Linked DNA regions of Homo sapiens. The protein of the gene in region 1 purifies or fractionates together with the protein of each later gene. This does not show direct contact. Each region holds a gene or a part of one and is shown in the gene's direction. Other genes may lie near its edges.

What was found.
Region 2: the proteins of MINDY2 (region 1) and DNAJC1 purify together in Homo sapiens (affinity purification with mass spectrometry; 3 studies listed by BioGRID and IntAct, with this or other methods). This does not show direct contact.
Region 3: the proteins of MINDY2 (region 1) and ALG11 purify together in Homo sapiens (affinity purification with mass spectrometry; 2 studies listed by BioGRID and IntAct, with this or other methods). This does not show direct contact.
Region 4: the proteins of MINDY2 (region 1) and XXYLT1 purify together in Homo sapiens (affinity purification with mass spectrometry; 2 studies listed by BioGRID and IntAct, with this or other methods). This does not show direct contact.
Region 5: the proteins of MINDY2 (region 1) and KLC1 purify together in Homo sapiens (affinity purification with western blotting, with the first as the bait; one study listed by BioGRID). This does not show direct contact.
Region 6: the proteins of MINDY2 (region 1) and HSDL1 purify together in Homo sapiens (affinity purification with mass spectrometry, with the first as the bait; one large-scale study listed by BioGRID). This does not show direct contact.
Region 7: the proteins of MINDY2 (region 1) and GNPAT purify together in Homo sapiens (affinity purification with mass spectrometry; 3 studies listed by BioGRID and IntAct, with this or other methods). This does not show direct contact.

Annotation. Positions count from the first base shown.
Region 1 is NC_000015.10:58,854,802-58,858,301, forward strand, and holds part of MINDY2 (ubiquitin carboxyl-terminal hydrolase MINDY-2), read left to right. Parts: 3' UTR 1-3,500. UniProt on the Homo sapiens protein: Hydrolase that can remove 'Lys-48'-linked conjugated ubiquitin from proteins. Binds to polyubiquitin chains of different linkage types, including 'Lys-6', 'Lys-11', 'Lys-29', 'Lys-33', 'Lys-48' and 'Lys-63'.
Region 2 is NC_000010.11:21,920,231-21,923,730, reverse strand, and holds part of DNAJC1 (dnaJ homolog subfamily C member 1 precursor), read left to right. Parts: intron 1-2,767; coding exon 2,768-2,933; intron 2,934-3,500. UniProt on the Homo sapiens protein: May modulate protein synthesis.
Region 3 is NC_000013.11:52,018,898-52,022,397, forward strand, and holds part of ALG11 (GDP-Man:Man(3)GlcNAc(2)-PP-Dol alpha-1,2-mannosyltransferase), read left to right. Parts: intron 1-15; coding exon 16-246; intron 247-3,500. UniProt on the Homo sapiens protein: GDP-Man:Man(3)GlcNAc(2)-PP-Dol alpha-1,2-mannosyltransferase that operates in the biosynthetic pathway of dolichol-linked oligosaccharides, the glycan precursors employed in protein asparagine (N)-glycosylation.
Region 4 is NC_000003.12:195,229,660-195,233,159, reverse strand, and holds part of XXYLT1 (xyloside xylosyltransferase 1), read left to right. Parts: intron 1-3,500. UniProt on the Homo sapiens protein: Alpha-1,3-xylosyltransferase, which elongates the O-linked xylose-glucose disaccharide attached to EGF-like repeats in the extracellular domain of target proteins by catalyzing the addition of the second xylose.
Region 5 is NC_000014.9:103,698,628-103,702,044, forward strand, and holds the end of KLC1 (kinesin light chain 1), read left to right. Parts: exon of another isoform or gene 1-170; coding exon of another isoform or gene 171-390; intron 391-505; coding exon of another isoform or gene 506-552; intron 553-736; coding exon of another isoform or gene 737-949; intron 950-2,027; coding exon 2,028-2,099; coding exon of another isoform or gene 2,100-2,100; intron 2,101-2,573; coding exon of another isoform or gene 2,574-2,576; 3' UTR 2,577-2,917; downstream 2,918-3,417. Other genes in the region: DNA repair protein XRCC3, read right to left, coding at 171-390, 506-552, 737-949. UniProt on the Homo sapiens protein: Kinesin is a microtubule-associated force-producing protein that may play a role in organelle transport. The light chain may function in coupling of cargo to the heavy chain or in the modulation of its ATPase activity.
Region 6 is NC_000016.10:84,128,178-84,131,677, reverse strand, and holds part of HSDL1 (inactive hydroxysteroid dehydrogenase-like protein 1), read left to right. Parts: intron 1-350; 5' UTR 351-356; coding exon 357-576; intron 577-1,246; coding exon 1,247-1,692; intron 1,693-1,902; coding exon 1,903-2,130; intron 2,131-3,500.
Region 7 is NC_000001.11:231,244,212-231,247,711, forward strand, and holds part of GNPAT (dihydroxyacetone phosphate acyltransferase), read left to right. Parts: intron 1-3,500. UniProt on the Homo sapiens protein: Dihydroxyacetonephosphate acyltransferase catalyzing the first step in the biosynthesis of plasmalogens, a subset of phospholipids that differ from other glycerolipids by having an alkyl chain attached through a vinyl ether linkage at the sn-1 position of the glycerol backbone, and which unique physical properties have an impact on various aspects of cell signaling and membrane biology.

The DNA of each region.
Region 1 (3,500 bases):
GAGTTTCATGTTACAAGTTGGAAATGCTGTGTGTTGACATTCATGAAAAATACTGCACTTGTAGCCAGATTAGCAAATCACAGCAAATTTTGTGTCATAGTGACATTCATAACTCATATCAGTTAGTAAGCTATTATATCTTCTGTTCTAACAATGAATGGAGGTAATTGATTTAGTCTGATTCCTTCCTGAAATCTAAATATTAGCACAATAGTTTCTGAAATTTTACAATGTTAAATTATGATCTAATTCATGAGAAACCACGGGTTTAACATAGGGATTCAAAAAAACAAAAACAAAAGAATAGGAATAAATAACCCTTAATTGTATATTGGACTAGTTCAGCCCTTAAACAGCTTTACCTTTATTTAGGAATGTACATTTTAGGTATTATCTTGATCATGGAGCTTAGTTTTAATTTAGATAGCAAAAATAAAGATTTGTATTTCTTTTCCAATAGCAAAAAGTTACATAACACTAATACTTATAACCTATCAATATCAGATATTAATGACTTTGTAGTGTTGTAAAATTTTGAGGAATTTTGGAGTCTTTATCATAGGTAACCTGGACCACAGTTACTATTTATTGACAATGTGATTGAGTGTATGGAGGAAAGCACAGTGGATGCTAGGCTTTGTAAATATGGGGATGTAGAAAAGCAGATAGTTCAGTGTCTACCTTTTTCTAGAACTACCTTGAACCTTAAATTTTAAGTCATGTTCATTGCTAGAAAATTAAATGTACTTATTAAAACCAATGAAAAAGCACATTTCTGAAATGAAGTTAGAGATAATCTCTGTGTCTTATAAAAAGACATTAATAAAAATCTGAAAGGGCCGGGCGCAGTGGCTCACGCCTGTAATCCCAACATTTTGGGAGGCCAAGGTGGGCGGATCATCTGAGGCCAGGAGTTCGAGACCAGCCTGGCCAGCATGGTGAAACCCTGTCTCTACTAAAAATACAAAAAATCAGCCTGGCATGGTGGTGCGTGCCTGTAGTCCCAGCTACTCAGGGCTGAGGCAGGAGAATTGCTTGAACCCGGCAGGCAGAGGTTGCAGTGAGCCGAGATCGCCCTGCTGCACTCCAGCCTGGGTGACAGAGGGAGACTCCGTCTCAAAAAAAAAAAAGTCTGAGAGTAGCTAAGAATTTATGTAAAAGCAATCAGAGTTTTTAATTTATGGGAACCAAATAAAACTATAACCTCATAGTGTTTATAAGAACTCAGAAATAATATTTATTTAACTTTATTATGAGGCCACACATATTTTCCTGTGTTTCTATATATAGTTTGGAAAACTATCCTTAATAGTCTGTTTTATATGCCTTATATTTAAAAGTTTGTTTTAGTTATTTTGAAAGACTATTGCTGCTGCAAATAGTTGTGTGCTTTACATTCTAAGCTTCAGTACATTTATTTAAGAGCATCATAATCTGACCTGAGCATCCACTTGGAGAGTGTTTTTTTTGTGTGTGGTCTGGGGTGACAAAAGACCACAAAAATGTGTGGTCTGGATTTTTTCAACTATGTCATTAACTTTATGATCCAAGACCAGTTATAGGATGAATCTGTATGTAAAAATAGAGTCTTATTTATGGAAGGAATTATTCTAAGGGAAAAATCCAGGGTCAAGCTGTATCTTTTATGTCCTTTATATTGCATGTCTATTTCTGTTACACAATTTGTTATTTCTTCAAATTTCCTATGGTAGCATGATAAATCATCAAAGAACCTGTTTGGGATATAAAACTCTGATAGAAAATATTTAATGAGTATCTTGATTATAACCTAGAATATGTATACGTTAGTAAAATAACCAGATATACTACAGAACTCTCTATTGGCTCAAACAGGTTGACCTCAATCCAAGTTTACTCTTGATATCACTCTGTTGGCTGAAGGAGGTAACTCAAACCTCAGGGTTTGTTTTTCCCGGGACAGATAGTAGTGATAGTGCATTATATTTGAATAAGAAAAACAAACCAGTATACCTTGAGAAATTTTAAAAAGCATAGTTGAGGCATATTTTTTCATAATTATATACTTATCTGTTTATTGCCCATGGAAAATATATGTGTAGAAGTATTTCTTCTGTTATTTGTTACTATCTTCTTAATTTGTTCCAAAGAAAATGCTGCCATACTGCATTCCCTCTGGAAGGAAACAAAACAAAACAAAACTCACTCAAAACCAGCAGTGCTGCTATCAGATAAGTAGATGTCAATGTATACTTACAAGGAAAAACTAAAAAATGTAATGTGTTAATTCAGCCTTTTTCTATGTAATATTTCCAAGTCAGACTTTCTTACATTCCTGGAATTTACTTTGATATACCAAGAATAATAATGATAAAATGTTTGCTTTGATTACTGTGGGGGGAAAGATGAAATGTTCAATTGTATTAAAACAAACAAGCTTTTCAGAGATACTGGTTTCCTGCCCTTGAAGGGTATAAAGAATTTAGATCATGCCTGTAATCCCAGTACTTTGGGAGGCCGAGGCAGGTGGATCACCTGAGATCAGGAGTTCGAGACCAGCCTGGCCAACATGGCAAAACCCTGTCTCTACTAAAAATACAATAATTAGCCAGGCATGGTGGCGGGCACCTGTCATCCCAGCTACTTGGGAGGCTGAGGCAGGAGAATCGCTTGAACCCAGGAGGCAGTGATTGCAGTGAGCTGAGATAGCACCACTGCATGCAAGCCTGGGCAATAGAGCGAGACTCCGTCTCAAAAAAAAAAAAAAAAAAAAAATTAGAGCTATTGTGTCTTTATTTTCTTAAATTTTGCCCAAGGTAACGTTATATATCCCACCACTTCATTGCTGGTTTGGGTACATAGGATTTTGAAAGTGGTATATTAAAGTCTTTCCTTCCAAGTATTTTGTAATACTTGAAAATTCTTAGATGTATACTGCTAACAAAAGTTAGAACTTAAACATTTTTGTTTTTATCATTTATAGCCTAGATTAGGGACATATTTGCATCAACCAAATCATCATTAGATTTGAAAATAGGCAGATGAATGAACAAATATGGTCATTGCACTTTCCTTTTACTTTCAGAGTCTAAGTATATTCCTTAAGGTTAGTAACCAGTCTTTATTAAAAATATAAAATTTTTCTTCATGTCTAATCCCATTGCATCCACAATGCTGTGATTTATAGTACATGATCAACACTTAAAAGTACTTTACATATGTGTGTTTCTGAAGCAAGTTTTCATGACCTCTGTTAGATTCTCAAAAGAATTCAGAACTTCAATTTAAGAATCACCATTTTAAGAATACATGTGTACATATACACATTAAGCAGTATAAAGCAGCTAAAATTGGCATTGGTTTTACACTGGTGCAGTGTGCTTAGGTAAAGTAACTTCTTCCATGTTTCAAGGTCAGGTTCAGAGTTGAATGAAGTGTAGATTTAAATTTAGGATTAGGCTTTGGAATATATCTTGTTTTTATTGTCTCACATTTCTGATATTGACTACTTATCCCATATT
Region 2 (3,500 bases), on another chromosome or scaffold:
GTATATTTTAAGAAAATCAAGTGAAATAAACACACATTAGGCCATATGTTGGATATGTGGAATTGATTAATGTTTTCATTTCCAAGAAAATGCCATTATAATTTCCTATGATTTTTAGCATTAGTGATATTTTTTATCATAGAGATTTCTTTCTTTATATCTTACAACACATACATTTATACATTCTTAATCTGGCTTTAATAAATAGTTGAGAACAGTTTGTATGAATCCCAAATACAGAGCATTTTAACAGTGTTATATGTTTAAATATAGAAAAGCCTAATACAGTGATGTTTTAAATTTTATGTGTTGTCAACACAGTATTTCTTCTTAAATAACTTATGAAAAGTGTCTGTGTGTACTTTGGTAAGAAATGTATTTTCAATGTTTCATCAAGAAAGCAGTGATTTATCTTTTAACAGCATATATTCTAAAAAATGAACTATAATGGAAGCTATCTTTCCTTAAAATGGCCAGTCGTGTGAGCTATAATATAGTTCATTGATAGTAAAATCAATAGAGCATTGATTCTAAGCTTAATCCTTAGAGACTGTTGTTTAGAGTGACAGACATAGGCTAGTAAATATCTAGTTCTGTTTAATGTGTTCAGTGCATGAGATTTTGCTATCTTGAATTTGTACACCAAATACAATTTGTACGTAGGGTAGAAAATAGTAGCTATTAACAGACACATAGCACTTTCAGTTATGATGGTGATAAAATATTTGATAAGAGATTCTTAGCTATGAGTTCAGCTGTTTTCTCTTCTGCTATAGTTTAGTTATACCCAAAGCAAATTTAATACTTAAGAGTGCTATTAGGGAATTGTCTCCATTTTCTTAGATGTTCTTTATCAATAACTATACTTTTTACCTGAAGTTATTTCATGGGAGAGGTTTGCTGAAAATGATGATTTCTATATTCACCTTTTTTCTCCCTCAACAAATCTGAAGTAGAATGTGGATTGAGAATAGATTCAGGACTTAAGGTTGATTGGACTTCATTTGAATGTTGTAATCTTATGTTAGAGCACTTGAAACCTTTTTACCTATACATTTTCTCATTTAAAATGAATCAGTATTTATAAGATAGATTTAAACATAAATTTTTGATAACATGAATGATAGTTTTTATGAAGTCATATTATTATATCTTGATGTTAATATTCAAGAATTTCGATAAACATTGAAAAAGAATAGCACCAAATTTTTCTGGTGTAGCTACTGCCAAACCATACATTACTTTGTAGACTCTTGTATATTACACAATTTGCTTTTTAAGAGTTTAGTACTAATTAATGTCCTTTGCTTTCAACATTGGTTATTCCAATTTGATGATATTGTTATTAATAACCTAAGTTGATCAGAAGGTCAGGTTTTCTAGATTTGCTAATAAAATATATTTTACATTTATATCTGATGTTTTTCTACTGAAAAAAGAAGTTGCCTGTAATAAATCCTCTGCTTTATTTTTTTAGCATATCTCCAAGGTATCAATTTAATAACTATCAAAGTAGCTACTGCAGTTGTTGCATTTAAATTGATTTACATGTCAAGACTGGCAGTTTAGCAGCTGCGCTATTATTCCTAGATCGGTCAATTTACTTGAGAAAAACCTACTACCGAGTTCTACTGACCTGCCTGACAATATAGGCCCTATTTCTATTCCTGTAATTAGGCCTGCGACTAACTCAGAATATTTTTAATTAAAATATTTTGGTCAATGTGTTGCACCAAATTAGGCCTTTCAGTGAAGATTTAATTCTGGAAATAGTGTGATTAGAATATTTAATGAGTTGTGTTCAATTAACAGGTTGTGTGTGTTGAACACACAGTGTTTGTATGTGACCATTTTGAGTTTTACAGTCATAAATGTTACTCCTTATTTTTAACCTCAAAGATATTTGTTCAATGATTGTCTGACAAGTAAATTTAAATTGAGTTGAAAATTTATTTTAAAGTAACTTTTTTATCCTGATAGTACCAAGAAAGCTGATTTAAAATGCATCAGCTTTTTAAAGGACTAGGAAAGCTTTTACTTGTTAATGTTCTTCTCTTCCAGCAAAAGCCAAAAATGAGGAAATTGCCACTTAATTGTTTACAAATAAACAGTTTTATTGAGAAATCCAACATAAACACTGGTTGTTACCACATCTCTTTTTAATTTGGGAGTTTTTTATTTTCTAAAGGAATATAGCAATACAAAATTAAAAGACACTCAATTTTATAGGCTTTTACCTCATTAAAAAGCTTTGATAAAATCATGTGTATAAATACTTCAGCCTTGAGCCACCGTAGTTTAGGGGTAGACATAAAAGCACTGACTAGAAAATTTATTCTGAATTTGATTCAATTAATATGTAATTCACGGTAACAAACAGCTCTTATCTTGATCTTTCTCCTATTGAGATCCTCCTTTTTGTTGCTGACTTCAATGGTAGAGTCTTTACTATAGACTAGTAGACAGGTAGACTACACGTAGCTCCTTTAGTTTAGATGTCACTCCAGGAGTCACATCTTTGGGTGCTGTAAAAACATGAGATCTGGTATCCACAGTATATTACTGGACACTTTTTTGAAGGGTGTCAGTGACTAGAGCTATCTACAGTGCTTTGAATTTACTCGATATTATAATGCTGGGAACGTACATAAACATTATCTATTTTGGATAATTTGTTTTCTTTTTCCTTTTTGTAATATAGGCACAAATAGTTTTTTTTGTTTTTATTTTAAACTCCCCGTGAAAAACTGTTATATTTGTACTGTAGGTATGATGATATTCTGATCAATGGACTTCCAGATTGGCGACAGCCTGTATTCTACTACAGGCGGGTGAGAAAAATGAGCAATGCTGAGCTGGCATTACTCTTGTTCATTATTCTCACAGTGGGTCATTATGCTGTGGTTTGGTCAATCTACCTGGAAAAACAACTGGTAAGTGTTAGTAATAAATCAAATGAACTAGCCTCCTTAATTTTATATGGAATTTTGGACATTTATTTTTCAACTGATGAAAATTTCTGTTTCTCTCTGTATACTTCTCATTCTAATAGTTTTATACTCAATGTTTGACATATTTCTAAGTCAAGAAGAACCCATGAAATAAGAAAATATTCTTCTTTTAAAAAATGTGGCACTTAAGTTTGTTATAAAACTTTGTGAAAGCCCAAATATCTAGCTGGGAATTAGAAGGTAGAGCCATGTTTTCATTATCACCTTCCAAATAGAAATATTTTTTATTTAAGACTGATTTTAGATTTTTTTGTGTCACAGGCCTTTATATAATGAATGTTTACTTTTAAAATGTTTTAGGTAAATAAATAAAATTGGAAATGAATATAATATTCTAACTTCAATTGGTTAAAAAAATTATTACACTTTTCTTGGTTTAATATGCTACTCTATAGTTTATTCTTTGGGTTTTTATTTATATGTTAAAGATAATCAAACATATTTATCAGTATTCATGAATTAGCATCTGTTTACTCATTCCTTTTGAAG
Region 3 (3,500 bases), on another chromosome or scaffold:
GTCCTCTTATTTCAGGTTTTTTTATTCATTATTCTTCCCTGGGCTCATTGTATGTGGAACTTTATGTGTGTGTTTGGTCATTGTCCTTTGGGGAATCAGACTGCTGCTACAGAGAAAGAAAAAATTAGTGTCAACTAGCAAAAATGGGAAAAATCAAATGGTGATTGCATTTTTTCATCCATACTGCAATGCTGGTGGAGGAGGAGAAAGAGTTTTATGGTGTGCTTTAAGAGCCCTGCAGAAAAAGTAGGTATCCATCTTTCTTAGCTAATTTGCTATATTGTTCCATTTCTTAAAAATTATTATCCAGAAATTCATCTTTTTTTTTTTTTTTTTTTTTTTGAGACAGAGTCTTACTCTGTCACCCAGGCTGGAGTGCAGTGGCACGATGTCGGCTCACTGCAAGCTCCGCCTCCCAGGTTCATGCCATTCTCCTGCCTCGGCCTCCCGAGTAGCTGGGACTACAGGTGCCCGCCACCACGTCCGGCTAATTTTTTGTATTTTTAGTAGAGACAGGGTTTCACCATGTTAGCCAGGATGGTCTCGATCTGCTGACCTTGTGATCCGCCCACCTCGGCCTTCCAAAGTGTTGGTATTACAGGTGTGAGCCACCGTGCCCGGCCTCATCTTTCTAAAGTACCTAAAGTAAAAAATGAATTCCTTTTTAAACTGTTCTTCAATAAGAAAATATTTCTTTCATGTGCCCACATACCTTATATGATCTTATTTGACTTTAGTTACTATGATAAAGAAATAGACAAACCCAGGCATGGTGGCTCACACCAGTAATCCCAGTACTTTGTGAAGCCGTGGCAGGTGAATCACTTGAGCCCAAGAGTTTGAGACCAGCCTGGGCACCATGGCGAAACCCTGTCTCTACAAAAAATTATCTGGGCATGGTGATGCGCACCAGCTTCTCCAGAGGCTGAGGTGGAAAGATTGACTGAGCCTGGGAAGTCAAAGCTACAGTGAGCCATGATTGTGCACTGACTGCACTCCAGCCTGGGTGACAGAGTGAGAACCCGTCTCAAGGGAAAACAAAAAAGAAAGAAAGAAATGGACAGTGGATGGGGAAAACATCTGCCCTTTTATGGCATAAATTAATGGGAATAACTGGTCCCCTTGGGAGAGCATATACAGAAGAGATTAAGTAATTGACAGAAATATACCAAGTATGTCAGAGCACTTTAAGCCTGAATACTTTCAGGCAGTTGTGGCACACAGGAATAATCTTTATGAAAGTATCTATTTGACTCAAATTTTTATATCATTACCAGCTGGATAGTCTCAACTTACCATGTTAGAAGGAATATGGTGTTATACATCTTTTAATATTTGAGGCTTCGTCATCACCACCCCCCATACCCCCAAAATATTTATGATTCTCTTTTAGAAAGGAAAAAGCATAGTAGGTTCCATTATTTTATCATATGAGGAAAACTGTTACTCTTCATGGTTACCCTACTTCCTGGTACACACCCTTCATTCAGTGCCAAGGCCTTCACACAGAATTACCTCAGCTATACTTTTCTGTAATCCTGGCCCATCCTAGCTTCCAGGCCCTACCCCTGTATTTGCTCTGCCATCTTCTGTAACTGCCTAAATACAAAGAATTCTCATAATTCCCAACTCCGTGATGCTTTTCCTACTCTCGTTGATAATACTTTTTTCTTCTCTAACCAGATTATCTACCTCTTGATGGCGGTGGTAAAGTTTCATGATATCTGTACACATAGTCCCCAGCAGCCTCTATTACTCCTAACCCATCTACAAGGAGAAAAAAACCAAATCATTAATATGACTTGGAAGATACTTTTTCATCTTGCTCTGGCCACATTGCGTTTCTCATCCCTCCCCATTCCTTCACAGGTACTTTACTCTGACATGCAGAACAAGGAGCAGCTCCCTGAACACATCATGCTCTCTCTCGAGTCCTTCCCTTTCTATATAGTGTTCTTTTCTTCTGAAATAACCTTTTTCTCCCCAGTTAATTTCTACAAGCCTTTCCTAACTCAACACATACTACAGTGCACTTTTCATTCGACCTAGCAGTATTTATTGGGGACCTGCTATGTGTCAGGCACTGTTCTGGGGGTTGAGATTAAGAGAACAAGATCGATCAAGTCCTTCTCTCCTGGACGTTTGATTTTAGTTGAGAGAGACAAGATAATAAGCAAAGAAGAAAAATATCAAATAGTGAGACGTGCTATATAAAAAGTTAAAATAGGGTAATATAGGAGTGACTTGATACTTTAGATAGAGTGATCAGGGAAATATCTGATAACAATCAAAATCTGAATGACAAAAACAGCTGCATTCACTGCGTGATGATTGTATGTTAGGTATTGTTTGAAGTGCTTTACATGTGTTAGCTCACTTGATCCTCAGAACAGCCTTTTGCAGTTGTTACCATTATCCTCATTTGACAAAGAAGAAAACTGGGGCACTAGAGCCCATGTTCTGAACCACATGCTAAACTGCCTGCCTTATGAAAAGACAGTGAAAATGAGAAAAGAGAATTCAGAGTAGAGAGAACAACCACTGCAAGTCCCCTAAGGCTGGTTGGAGCTTGGCGTGTTAAAAAAAAAGAATGCCAGTTTGGCTGCACCCTGGAGGGCAAAGGAGAGCATGGGAAGGGAGGTGACAGAGGGAGGCAGGTTCCAGATCACACAGGACTTGAGTGAGCAGGGAAATTAGTTTAGATTTTATTCTAAGTGCTATAGTAAACCAGTTTTGGGGTTACTGTTCTGTGACATGGTTTAGGGGCTGCCATGTTTGGTCTCCATCATACTGTTGCAATTAGATGGCAGCTGGGGCTGGAGGCATCTGAAGCCTTTTTCACTCACATTCTGGTTCTTGGGCTGGGATAACTGGACCTGCTGGGGGCTGTCGGGCATCTCTCTCACTGAGGAGCTTCTTCATGTGACTTGGTTGTGCTTGCATACAACATAGCAATCTCGGGCTGGTTGGACTCCGTACATGACAGCTGTCTTCTCCTAGCATGAGCATTCCAGGAGACAGGAAGTAGGAGCTGCCAGTCCCTTAGAGTCTATGTTGGGAAACTGGCACAATGTCACTTTTGCCATATTCTGTTGGTCAAAATAGTCACAGAGCCAGGTGTTATTCCAGGGGAGGGGACTTAGATGCCACCTCTCAGTGAGAAAAGTATCAAAGAATTTGTGGCCCGTCCGGGCACAGTGGCTCACACCTGTAATCCCAGCACTTCAGGAGGCCAAGTCTGGCAGATCACTTGAGGCCAGGAGTTTGAGACCAGCCTGGTTAACATGGCAAAACCCCTTCTCTACTTAAAAAATACAAAAATTAGCTGGGCATGGTGGCACACATCTGTAATCCCAGCTTCTCAGGAGGCTGAGGCACGAAAATCACTTGAACCCGAGAGGTGGAGGCTACAATAAGCCAAGATCACGCCACTGTACTCCCGCCTGGGCGACAGACAGAGCGAGACCCTGTCTTAAAAAAAGAAAGAAAAAACAAATGGA
Region 4 (3,500 bases), on another chromosome or scaffold:
ATTTCAAGAAAAAAATATAAAAAGAGACAAGTTTGTTGTATAATGATAAAGGGGTCAATTCAGCATAAGGATATAACAGTTATATATGCATCCAACACTAGTGCACTCAGATATATAAAGCAAATATTATCAGAGTGAAAGATGGAGATAGACCCCAATACAATGATAGCTGGAGACCTCAACACCCCACTTTCAGCATTGGACAGATCATCCAGACAGAAAATCAACAAAGAAACATCAGACTTAATCTGCACCATAGACGAAATGGACCTAATAGATACTTACAGAACATTTCATTCCATAGTTGCAGAATACACATTCTTCTGCTCAGCACATGGATCATTCTCAAGGATAGACCATATGCTAGGTTGCAAAACAAATCTTAAAACATTCCAAAAAACTGAAATAATATCAAGTATCTTCTCTGACTACAATGGAATAAAACTAGAAATTAATAACAGGAATTTTGGAAACTATACAAACACATGGAAACTGAACAATATGCCTCTGAATGACCAGTTGGTCAATGAAGAGGTTAAGAAAGAAATTGAAAAATTTCTTGAAACAAATGATAATAGAAACACAACATACCAAAACCTATGAAATACAGCAAAGCAGTACTAAGAGAAGTTTATGGCTATAAATGCCTACATCAAAAAAGAAGAAAAAGTTCAAATAAACCACCTAATGATGCGTCTTAGAACTAGAAAAGCAACAGCAAACCAAACCCAAAGTTAGTGGAAGAAAAGAAGTAATAAAAATTAGAGCAGAAATACATGAAATTGAAACAGAGTAAACAATACAAAAGATCAATGAAATGAAAAGTTTTTTTTTGGTATTTTGAAAAGATAAAATTGACAAACCTTTAGCCAGACTAAGAAAAAAAAGAGAGAAGACCCAAATAAATAAAATCAGAGATGAAAAAGGAGATATTACAACTCATACTGCATAAATTCAAAGGATCATTAGTGGCTACTGTGAACAACTATATACCAATAAATTGGAAAACCTAGAAGAAATGGATAAGTTTCTAGACACATACAACCTACTAAGATAGAATCATGAAGAAATCCAAAATCTGAACAGACCAATAACAAGTAATTAGATCAAAGCCATAATAAGTCTCCTAGCAAAGAAAAGCCAAGGATGCAATGGCTTCTCTGCTAAGTTCTACCATTTAAAGAAGAAGTAATACCAACCCTACTCAAACTATTCTGAAAAATAGGGGAGGAGGGAATACTTCCAAACTCATTTTATGAGGCCAGAATTACCCTGATACCAAAAACCAGACAGACACATCAGTAAAAGAAAACTATAGGCTAGTATCCCTGATGAACACTGATGCAAAAATTCTCAACAAAATGCTAACAAACCAAAGTCAGCAGTACATTTAAAAAAAAAAAAAAATCATTCATCATGACCAAGTGGAATTTATCCCAAGGATACAAGAATGGTTCAACGTTCACAAACCAATCAGTGTGATACATCATATCAACTAAATGAAGGGCAAAAACCATATGATCATTTCAGTTGATGCTGAAAAAGCATTTGATAAAATTCAACATCACTTCATGATAAAAATCCTCAAAAAACTGAGTATAGAGGGAACATACCTCAATATAATAAAAGCCATATGCAACAGGCCCACAGCAAATAATCATACTGAATGGGGAAAAACTGAAAGCCTTTCCTCTAAGATCTGAAATAACAAGGATGCCCACTATGTTGAATAGCAACATAGTACTGGAAATCCTAGCTAGAGCAATCAGACAAGAGAACGACATAAAGCCTATCCAAATGGGAAAGGAAGAAGTCAAATTACACTTGTTTGCAGATGATATGACCTCCTATTTGGAAAAACCTAAAGACTCCACCAAAAAACAAAACAAAAAATGTATTGATTAGAACTAATCAATACATTTAGTAAAGTTGCAGAATACAAATTCAACATACAAAAATCATTAGCATTTCTATATGCCAACAGTGAACAATCTGAAAAAGAAATCAAGAAAGTAATTCCATTTATAATTGCTACAAATAAAATACCTAGGGATTAACCAAACAAGTGAAAGCTCTCTAGGATGAAAACAATAAAACACTGATGCAAGAAACTGAAGAGGACACCAAGAAATGGAAAGATAAGCCATATTCATGGATTGGAAGAACCAATATTGTTAAACTTTCCATACTACCCAAAGCAATCTACAGATTCAATGCAATCCCAATCAAAATACCAATGACATTCTTCACAGAAATAGGAAAAAAATCCTAAAATTTATATGGAACCACAAAAGACCCAGAATAGCCAAAGCTATCTTGAGCAGAAAGAATAAAACTGGAGGAATTACATGATGTGACTTCAAGTTATACTACAGAGTTATAGTAACCAAAACAGCATGGTTCTGGCATAAAAACAGACACGTAGACCAATGCAACAGAATAGAGAACCCAGGAATAAATCCATACATCTACAATGAACTCATATTTGACAATGGTTCCAAGAACATACACTGGGGAAAGGACAATCTCTTTAATAAATGAAGCTGGGAAAACTGGATAACCTTATGCAGAAGAATGCATCTAGACCTCTCTCTCTTGCCATATAAAAAAACAAAGTGGATTAAAGACTTAAATCTAAGACCACAAATTATGACACTACCAAAAGAAAACATTGGGGGAAACTCTCCAGGACATTGGACTTGGCAAAGATTTCTTGCGTGATACACCACAGGCATAGGCAATCAAAGTGAAAATGGACAAATGGGATCACATCCAGTTGAAAAGCTTCTGCACAGTGAAGGAAACAATCAGCAAAGTGAAGAGAGAGCCCAGAGAATGGGAGAAAATATTTGTAAACTGTCTATCTGACAAGGGATTAATAACCAGATTATATAAGGGGCTCAAACAACCCTGTAGGAAAAAAATTTAATAATCTAATTAAAAATTGGGCAAAATATCTGAATAGATGTTTCTCCAGAGAAGACATACAAATGGCAAACATGTATATGAAAAGGTGCTCAACATCATTGATCATCAGAAAAATGCAAATCAAACCTACAATGAGATATCATCTCACTCCAGTTCAAATGGTTTTTCTCCAAAAGACAGGCAGTAACAAATGCTGGTGAGGATGTAGAGAAAAGGGAACCTTCATATACTGTTGGTGTGAATTAGTACAATCACTATGGAGAACAGATTGGCGGTTCCTCAAAAAACTGAAAATAGAGCTAGCATATGATCCTGCAATCCCACTGCTAGATATATACCCAAAAGAAAGGAATTAAGTATATCGAAGACATATCTGCACCCCCATGTTTATTGCAGCACTATTCACAATAGCTGGGATTTGGAAGCAGCCTAAGGTTCCATCAGCTGATGAATGGAAAAAGAAAACAGTACATATACAAAATGGAGTACTATTCAGCCATAAATAAGAATGAGATCCTGTCATTTGCAACAACAGTGATGGAACCGGAGATCGTTTTGTTAAGTGGCATAAG
Region 5 (3,417 bases), on another chromosome or scaffold:
GTCAGTCTGTGGCCACCATCTTCGGATGAGAAAGTGGAGCCGCTGCCCTGGAAGAGCTGTGTCTGAACCAGGCTCCCAGCTGTGCCACGGCCCAGGCAGACGCGTTTTAAAGGCCCGAGCCCCGTGTGTCGGGGCTTCTCAGGCAGGGCTGTTGTGCAGCCGCCACCGTGTCAGTGGGACTGGGTCCCAGGTGTCCCTCGCACCCCTTCGGCACTGATCGTGTAGGAACAGGAGGAGGGGGGCAGGTGGGGGGCAGAGAGCACCCGCAGGGTCCGGGCTGGGCAGCCGAGGGCAGCCTCTTCCTCGCGGAGCCGGTCAGCCAGCAGTCTCACCAGGAGCTGGTTAGCCCAGGTTATGCCAAGGGCTGGGGAAACACGTTCGTCCCAGAACCTGAGAAACAGGAAGCAGGCAAGCTGGCGCTCAGGCTTGGTGGCCCCGCCCACTTCGGCCCAGCTGTGCCCCTGGCACCTGCACAGAGGTGCACACACCACATGGCTGCACTCACCCCAGCGGCCCGTGTGCTGCGCCCTGCTCCTCCATGGCCTCTGTCACCTGGAAGAGCACAGTCCAGGTCAGCTGCAACGGCTGAGGGTCTTCTCGATGGTTAGGCACAGGCTGCTACCCGCAGGAGCCGGAGGCCACCTCACTGCCACCCGCCCCACCTCCAGACCGGCTCTGCTTCCGCATCCTGGCTAAAAATACGAGCTCAGGGGTGCAACCCTGCCTTGGTGCTCACCTGGTTGATGCACAGCACAGGGCTCTGGAAGGCACTGCTCAGCTCACGCAGCGTGGCCCCCAGGGACTGCAGATGCCTGGCCCTGGGGGCGGAGGCCTGGCTGTCAAATTCACAGCGGAATGGGGCTGCCACCGAGTCGATGACCACCAGGCGAGCCATGCCCCGAGACAGCAGTACGGGGACCTTCTTATTCACACACTCCAACAAGGTGTCCTGTGGGGACAGCTGTCATTGTCTATGCTGGTCAGCAAGTCCCCGCCCCAGGTGACCAGACCCCGTTTGGACTGTCACTCGACCGTCTGAAAACCTTCCTACCCACCTGGGGCTCACAGTGCCCATACTCTGTAGTCCCCATACTCTGAGCCCAATTCTGTATTTTTCTCAAAGAGGCCCCAACTATAGAAGCTTCAGGCTCACACAACTGGTTCCCTTGGCCCCATGTCCTTCCTCTGGCCCCCCCAGGCAGTCACCCCTTGGCTGTGCCAACACCGTCCTCTGTAGAGGTGTCCTTTGCGCAGGCTCCTGAGTCCTTGCGGGGGTCTGCTCTCCTTCTGCCATGGTTTCACCCTCTCCCCCTCACAGGTCAGCAGCAACCAGCCCCCTCCTTCAGTGGCCCCGCACCAGGTACTCAGACCACCCAAACCTGGCCACAGTGCCACCAAAGCCAGCCCGTGGTGGCCATGACCTCTTCAGACGCTCAGCAAGGCAGGGGCCTGATGCCCTTCAGGCGTTACTCAGGCGAGTCAGGCCTGGCCTGCCTCTGCCAAGGCGTGGGGCACTCTGGGAGACCACCTGGGGGTCAGGATGGGGCTGTAGGTTGAGACACCCTCAAGGCCAGTGCCTCCCGTGCATCCAGGCCTTAGCCCTGTGCTCTGAGCTGGCCTGGCCTGGCCAAGGGGTGGAAACAGCCCTGTGCCCACCAGCTCCCAGGAGAGCTTCCAGGGGAGGACCCCCCCAGTGAAGGCAGGTGTCCTCGGCCTCCCTCTGGGTGCTGCCGTGGCCTGTGGGTGCCAGAGCCATTGGCATGGCTGGCCTGGCCTCTGACCGCACAGCTTGGTGAGCCATGGTGATGGGGGAGGGTGACACAGCTGCTCCTGGCACCAAGCAGTGTAGTTCAGGCCCCACGGGCCTTGCCAGCAGCTCTGGCCAGATGGAGGCTGCTAAGGGGCCCCTAGGCTGTCCCTCAAGTCCAAGGTCTGCAGCCACACGCTGGTGTCACGCCCGGAGCTCTGAAGACGCCTGAGGGCCGCCTGCACGCCCTGAGTGAAACTCGTCTGTGCTTCATCTCCAGGGCGTCTCTGGCCGAGCCTCTTTTTGTGGAAAACGACAGCAGCAGCAGTGGCCTGGAAGACGCCACCGCTAACGTGAGTCCCACGGCCTGCAGCCCCAGGAAGCAGGCAGCTGGGCCAGGGAGGGACTTTGCACATGCAGGGACTGGGGGGAGCTGGGGATGGGCAAGTGGTGACTGCTGCTAGCTGCCAGGCTGGGCCTCCAAGAGGGGCTTGGCTCAGGGTCCCCATCCTCATGCAAGCCCAAGGGCCACAGAGTGGGGGGGTGGGAATGGCACCAGGCTCTGCTTATGCAAGAGAAGGCTCTGTGTCCACACCCCTGGCTTCCCCCGTGCCAGACGCAGGCCTTTGGTGCTCCAGGGAGCAGAGACCAAAGACGCACCAGTCCCCCATGACCCCTCGGCCCCAGGGAGGCTCACAACCAGCAACACCCTCTTCTCTAGGCAGACTTGGGGTGGGGGTTCCCCAGAGAGCTGTTTCCAGAACAGAACTTAGTAACACTGTCAGGTTTTGGCGGCCCAGCCCTGACCTTCTATCTTCTCTTGCAGTGACCCCGACCTGGCCCCGCTCCAGGATGGGACTGCCGAGTGTGGCCCGGAGCTGGCCCGGGACAGCCAGGGCGGCAGGGAGGGCCCCTGGCCGGGAGCCGCAGCGCTCACTCATTTCTCCTGCGTCTGTGTGCATAGGACATGATACTAATAACCACACGGCTGGCGTGACCTTGGGGCTGGGGCTGGGCCTAAGCTGGTGCCCTGGTGCGGCGTGGTCTCTCCCAGGAGACCTGGGGCATGAGCTGGGCCCACGGCTCCCTTCCCATGTGTAACTTCCTCACGTTGTGTGCGATAACGTATTTTATTGTACATTTTTTTAAATTAAAAGTTTATATGCCTTATGCTTTACTTGAAAGTTTTTATAAGACCTCTTAGAAGTGGGGGAAGGCTGGCGGGCGCGGTGGCTCACGCCTGTAATCCCAGCACTTTGGGAGGCCGAGGTGGGCGGATCACCAGGTCAGGAGATCGAGACCATCCTGGCTAACATGGTGAAACCCCGTCTCTATTAAAGATACAAAGAATTAGCTGGGCGTGTTGGTGGGCGCCTGTAGTCCCACCTACTCTGGAGGCTAAGGCAAGAGAATGGCGTGAACCCGGGAGGTGGAGCTTGCAGTGAGCTGAGATTGCACCACTGTACTCCAGCCTGGGCGACAGAGCGAGACTGTCTTAAAAAAAAAAAAGAGAAGTGGGGGAAGGCCCACCCAGGAGCTGCTCTGCCAGGCCACAGCCATGTCTAGGGTGGGCTGGACATGGCAGCCGCTCCCCCTGCACAGGGTGGAATTTCCTTACTTGCCTTTGGTCAGGGGTTTACTCCCAAACGTCCCATCTTTTCTTCTGCGTC
Region 6 (3,500 bases), on another chromosome or scaffold:
CCGGGCGTGGTGGCATGTGCCTGTAGTCCCAGCTACTTGGGAGGCTGAGGCAGGAGAATCGCTTGAACCCGGGAGGTGGAGGTTGCAGTGAGCCAAAATCGCACCACTGCACTCCAGCCTGGGCGACAGGGTGAGACTCTGTCTGATAGATAGATAGATAGATAGATAGATAGATAGATAGATAGATAGATAGACTGAAACTGTGAGCCACGTACATTTGAAAAGTTAGTGTTATTTGAACGTACAATTGACAAGATCTGATGCCCTCAGCTGGATGTCTTCACTCAGACTGTGTATGTTCCTTTAATTTATTAATCAAAGAGGCTCTCTCTCTTTCCCTCTCCCTGCAGGTTGCCATGGCTGCTGTTGACAGTTTCTACCTCTTGTACAGGGAAATCGCCAGGTCTTGCAATTGCTATATGGAAGCTCTAGCTTTGGTTGGAGCCTGGTATACGGCCAGAAAAAGCATCACTGTCATCTGTGACTTTTACAGCCTGATCAGGCTGCATTTTATCCCCCGCCTGGGGAGCAGAGCAGACTTGATCAAGCAGTATGGAAGATGGGCCGTTGTCAGCGGTAACCTACTTTATAATCAAAATAATCTTTTCTGTGAAGTCGGATGCATTATTCAAGGAGCTATTGAATTTAATGTGGTGTTTTTATGGGAACATGCTGATAAAAAAATAAAACTTATGGCTCCTGCCGTGATTATGTTCACATTTCATTTTCTTACTGCTCTCATCTTAGGAAGAACTGGCCTCATGATTGGTATCCTTCCTATTCTGCTCTCTCCTGTTCCCAGTCCTCCTCCAGACCCACTTCCTACTATGTGCTTTTCCTTTTTGTTCTCTGTTTTAAAATTGTCTTGAAAGTGTTGCCACTTTCAGAAATGCTTCACCTATTTTGAATTTCATTTTAATTTATGAAGATTTCCCAGAAAAGCACCTCCTGCCACTCATTCAAGCCAGATAGTAGTTTGAAAACAAATTCCTACTGTGTCTCCTAACCAATATGGTGAATGTAAAATAACTCCCTGTCCGTGTGTCAGGATGTCTGGGAGAGTGTATAGCATGCGCCCTTCACATTCCTCATTCAGCAACAGTGTCCTTGACTTGTAGATACTAGAACCGACTTGATTTCTAGTGTGAATTTTTCTCTGACTAAACCTGACAGGGGGTACTTTGGGTCCATTTTAAGGGTCACACCGTGAAATACACATGCTCACTTTTCCTGACTTGCATCCTAGGTGCAACAGATGGGATTGGAAAAGCCTACGCTGAAGAGTTAGCAAGCCGAGGTCTCAATATAATCCTGATTAGTCGGAACGAGGAGAAGTTGCAGGTTGTTGCTAAAGACATAGCCGACACGTACAAAGTGGAAACTGATATTATAGTTGCGGACTTCAGCAGCGGTCGTGAGATCTACCTTCCAATTCGAGAAGCCCTGAAGGACAAAGACGTTGGCATCTTGGTAAATAACGTGGGTGTGTTTTATCCCTACCCGCAGTATTTCACTCAGCTGTCCGAGGACAAGCTCTGGGACATCATAAATGTGAACATTGCCGCCGCTAGTTTGATGGTCCATGTTGTGTTACCGGGAATGGTGGAGAGAAAGAAAGGTGCCATCGTCACGATCTCTTCTGGCTCCTGCTGCAAACCCACTCCTCAGCTGGCTGCATTTTCTGCTTCTAAGGTCAGATGTTACTTACTGGAAGATGAAATCCTAATGCCACAGAACATTTATTAACAGTTGTTTGGTCTGATTTGTTGAACTCTTTGTCAGCAACTCACATATGCTTATCCTGTATTTTTTCCTGAATTGATAATAAGCAAGTCTTTTTTTCTCCTGAATTTTCAAGTTCACCCAGAATTAAAAGTCTTTTCCTCCCCTCTGTCTCAACAGGCTTATTTAGACCACTTCAGCAGAGCCTTGCAATATGAATATGCCTCTAAAGGAATCTTTGTACAGAGTCTAATCCCTTTCTATGTAGCCACCAGCATGACAGCACCCAGCAACTTTCTGCACAGGTGCTCGTGGTTGGTGCCTTCGCCAAAAGTCTATGCACATCATGCTGTTTCTACTCTTGGGATTTCCAAAAGGACCACAGGATATTGGTCCCATTCTATTCAGGTAGGAGTGTGCTTCAGGTCTCATAATTAGATTAATGCATCATGAACCTATCTCAGTGATACAGAGAAATCTGATTAAAGCCTAAGATGAGAATTGTAAATTCTGACTCTTAAGCCTGACACTTAATAATTTTGGTTAAGACACTAAATTTTCTTTCTTTTTTTTTTTGAGATGGAGTCTGGCTCTGTCACCCAGGCTGGAGTGCAGTGGTGCGATCTCAGCTCACTGCAAGCTCCGCCTCCCGGGTTCATGCCATTCTCCTGCCTCAGCTTCCCGAGTAGCTGGGACTACAGGCACCTGCCACCACGCCTGGCTAATTTTTGTATTTTTAGTAGAGACGGGGTTTCACCGTGTTAGCCAGGATGGTCTTGATCTCCGGCCTCATGATCTGCCTGCCTCAGCCTCCCAAAGTGCTGAGATTACAGGCGTGAGCCACCGTGCCTGACCAAAGACACTAAATTTTCTTTTGTGAAATTATTACCTTAAGAATTTTCAAAAGTTCAATCTATGTGGCACCTTAAAGTGAAATATACTACTTTGGCTGGGGTGTGGTGGCTCACATCTGTAATCCCAGCACTTTGGGAAGCTGAGGTGGGTGGATCACCTAAGGTCAGGAGTTCGAGACCAACCTGGCCAATATGGTGAAACCCTGTCTGTACTAAAAATACAAAAATTAGCTAGGCTTAGTGGTGTGTGCCTGTAGTCCCAGCTACTTGGGAGGCTGAGGCAGGAGAATCGCTTGAACCCTGGAGGCGGAGGTTGCAGTGAGCCAAGATCACGCTACTGCACTCCAGCCTAGGCGACAGAGCAAGGCTCTGTTTCCAAAAAAAAAAAAAGAAATATGCTGCTGTAAGTGGATGTTAGGACTATAAAAATACTAAGTATTTACATGGGAATTTCAAAGTAAAAGATTCTAGTACTGCTTGAGGGTTACCTCTCAGTGAAAAATATAATCCAAAAAAACCACAAAACCACAAGATAGGGCTATATTTCATGCAACCATTTTATCAAATAATATCTCTGTATAGTCTTAGACTAATTTTTTCAAGAAGCATAGAATTTTTATTTTAAGCTTATTGTTTAGGCATGACAAAGGATTGGTACCTTTTAGTACTGTAGAAAGTAACTTTCTTAGATATTTGAAATTGTGATCGTAAGTATTAATTTGAGAATGCATAATTATCTATTACAATATATTTCAGTTCCTTTATCTGGTGTAGTAAAGAGATGTGCCCTAGTTTAGAATTTTTTTTTTTTTGAGATGGAATTCCGCTCTTGTTGCCCAGGCTGGAGTGTAATGGTGCGATCTTGGCTCACTGCAACCTCCACCTCTCGGGTTCAAGTGATGCTCCTGCCTCAGCCTCCGGAGT
Region 7 (3,500 bases), on another chromosome or scaffold:
TCTGGTGTGATTATCTGTATAGGTAACCTGTTTTGCCTAAGTAGAGACTGTAGGAAGAGAATCAGGTTGGGTAGGGAATCTGATGCATAAAAGTGGAGATCAGTTAGAATGCTATTGCAGTAATCCAGAGAAGTAATGAAGCAGTAACAGTGAGCCCAGGAAGAAGGGAAATTGATGAATTTATGTGATATTTAGGACAGTAAATCATCATCCTTTGGAACCATTTGAATGTGGTGGCTAAGGAAAATAGCATAGTCTGAAGTTCACTGTTGGGTTTCTATGATTTGGCAACTGGGCAGATGATGATGCCTTTCATTGATAAGAAATATGGGGAGAGGAGCAGGTTTGGTCAGGGTAATAGAATTCAGTTTGGGGTGTGTTCAGTTTGTGATGTAAGAGAGAAATATAATGATTTTTAACTTGTGGATTATCATGTTATGAGCCAGATACATTCCATAGTGTTTGGAAGAGATCCAAGTAGGGTTAGAAATATGGTGCCAGAGCAAGAGAGGGGGTCTGGCCTAAATGTATAGATTTTTCAGCATGTAGGTTGTATCTATAGCATTCGGTGAGCCTGAAATCATTCAGTGAGACCCTAGAATGAAAAGAAGACTGAGGATGGGTAACCACTGGTGTGCCATAATCCAGATGATGACTTCCTGTTAAAGTCCAAGTGAAAGATGCAGATGCCTTACTACAGTGTCCCACAAGACTGTACATGATCTCTTAACTGCTATTGCTCTGACTTTACTAATCTTCTTGTTCACTGGGCTTTAGCCACCCTGGCCTTCTGTTTCTCAGACAGTAAAATGCTCTTCCCTCGAATGCTCATAGTCCCTTCTGTGTGGCATGCTATGTTTTCTCAGAAGTTTTATTGCTGGCTCTTTGTATTATTGAGGTCCCAACTCAAATATCACTTCCTCAGAGAGGCCTTCCACAACCATTGAATCTAAAACAGCTATCCAATCACTATTCCTCATTTTCCTCATTAGTTGCCTAATTTTCTTTTTTTGTTGTTGTTAATTTTTGGCTTTTTAATTAATTATTTTTAGAGCCAGGATCTTGCTCTGTCACCTAGAGTGGAGTGCAGTGGCATAGTCATAGCTCACTGTGACCTCCAACTCTTGAGCTCAAGTGATCCTCCCTCCTCAGCCTCCCAGTAGCTAGGACTGTAGGCGCATACCACCACGCCTGACTGGTTTTTTTTTTTATTTTGTGTAGAGACAGGGCCTCACTATGTTGCCAACCTGGTCTCAAACTTCTGGTCTCAAACGATTGATCCTCTTGCCTTGGCCTCCCAGATCACTGGGATTACAGAGTGAGCCACCATGCCCTGACCGCAGCTTTATTTTCCTTATATTCTCTTTCCAGTGGTGTGCTACAGCAGTCTTCTATTGGCTTGCAAGAGCTGATTGTTAAATTTTCATGAAGTTTGTGAGCCCATTCTTAAAACACAGCCATTATTAAAAATTAAATAGCCGGGCGCTGTGGCTTACGCCTGTAATCCCAGCACTTTGGGAGGCCAAAGCAGGCGGATCACCTGAGGTCGGGAGCTCGCGACCAGCCTGACCAACATCGAGAAACCCCGTCTCTACTAAAAACACAAAATTAGCTGGGCATGGTGGCACATGCCTGTAATCCCAGCTACTCGGGAGGCTGAGGCAGGAGAATCGCTTGAACCCGGGAGGTGGAAGTTGCAGTGAGCCGAGATTGCGCCATTGCACTCCAGCCTGGGCAACAAGAGTGAAACTCTGTCTCAAAAAAAAAAATTAAATATTAAATTATGTAAATTTACGATTAAATCCTGTTTTTAAAAAAGGTAATAAATACTGATAACTTAACATTTTCTCATTATTGTACTATTACCTGTGCTCTTGAGATTATTTGTCTATCGTGCTGGAAGGTGGAGATCCTGTATCCTGTATAACTGTGTGCTACTGCTCATTTCTCCCCAGCTTTGCGTTTGCTGGGGTCAGATTGGAAGCTTTAAATCTGCCCTGGTGGGAGCGTATATCCCACAAAAATTGACAAATGCTATAACTCAGAGCTCTCCCATATCAAGCGTTAAATGGTTAAACATTGACCAACATACTACTGGTGGTATCACTAAATGAATTTACCTTGTTTATTTGTTGTCTGTCTTTCCATAAGGACACGTAGGCTCTCAGTGCAGTCCCTGCCTGCCTTGTTCATGCTGTATTCACAGCCTGTAAAACAGTGCCTGGTACACTGTGAGCTCTCAGTCACTATCTGTTGAATGAGTGGATCCTCCAGAGCAGTTAAAAGGGAGGTATAAGAAAGGCCTATTTCACTAGCAGTAGGGAGAGGCCTGCTCTACTAAGTAAGATGGGGGAGAGATAGTTCCCCTAAGGCTTACTTGGGTTCTTCTTTGTGTTATGTTCCTGAGTGAGTAGCCATGTAAATTTACTTACTTAATGATAGTAAAAACTTCTCAAGCATGGTATAGGGAAGGCCAATTAATGAGCAGGAACACTCAACCCTAGCTGCACATAGGAATCACTTGGAGTATTTTTAAAAAGAATTTGGACAGCTGAGCAGCACTCACAGACCAAATTAATCAGAAATCTCTACAGGTGGAACCTGGATATCAGTATTTATTTTGAAGTGCCCCCAGGTTATTTTAATGTGCAGCCTGAGTTTAAAACCACTGGATTCGGCCGGGCGCGTTGGCTCACGCCTGTAATCCCAGCACTTTGGGAGGCCTAGGCAGGTGGATCACGAGGTCAGGAGATCCAGACCATCCTGGCTAACACGGTGAAACCTCGTCTCTACTATAAATACAAAAAATTAGCCGGGCATGGTGGCGGGCGCCTGTAGTCCCAGCCGCTCGGCAGGCTGAGGCAGAATGGCGTGAACCCGGGAGGCGGAGCTTGCAGTGAGCTGAGATCGTGCCACTGCACTCCAGCCTGGGCAACAGAGAGAGACTCCATCTCAAAAAAAAAAACCACTGGATTCGACATCGGGTAAGGGCCAGAATGGGGAGATTTGAGCCTTATACTGTGAATACTGAGGAGCCATCATCGATAGGGTTCAAAAAGTGACTTCATTCTGTAATTTATTTTTTCATTCTACAGTGGCTTGAGTTCATACTAGAAACTGGGAGTACAGAAATGTATAGGACACCTTATCTACCAGATAAGAAGTTCACAGTCTTGTAAGGGAGGCACCAAATACGAGTTTAATGAAGTGTTTTAGAGACCATCTTGAAAATCCGATTATTGAGGGTTCAGTGAAGACTGAAAGGAAAGGATGACCTGTTCAATCTAGGTAAAGGGGAGAACCAGAATATGGGACACAGAAGAGGTAAACACAAGCTCTGGTTGATGGCTAAATATTTCCCAGGTGAACAGTGCGGAAGGAGCATTTGTAAATGCCCCTCTCAATAACTGGTACCACCATCCACCTTGTTCTTCATAAAAGAGACTGTCTCTCTCTTGATCACCACTATATCCTCAGCACATACCACAGTGTCAAGCACA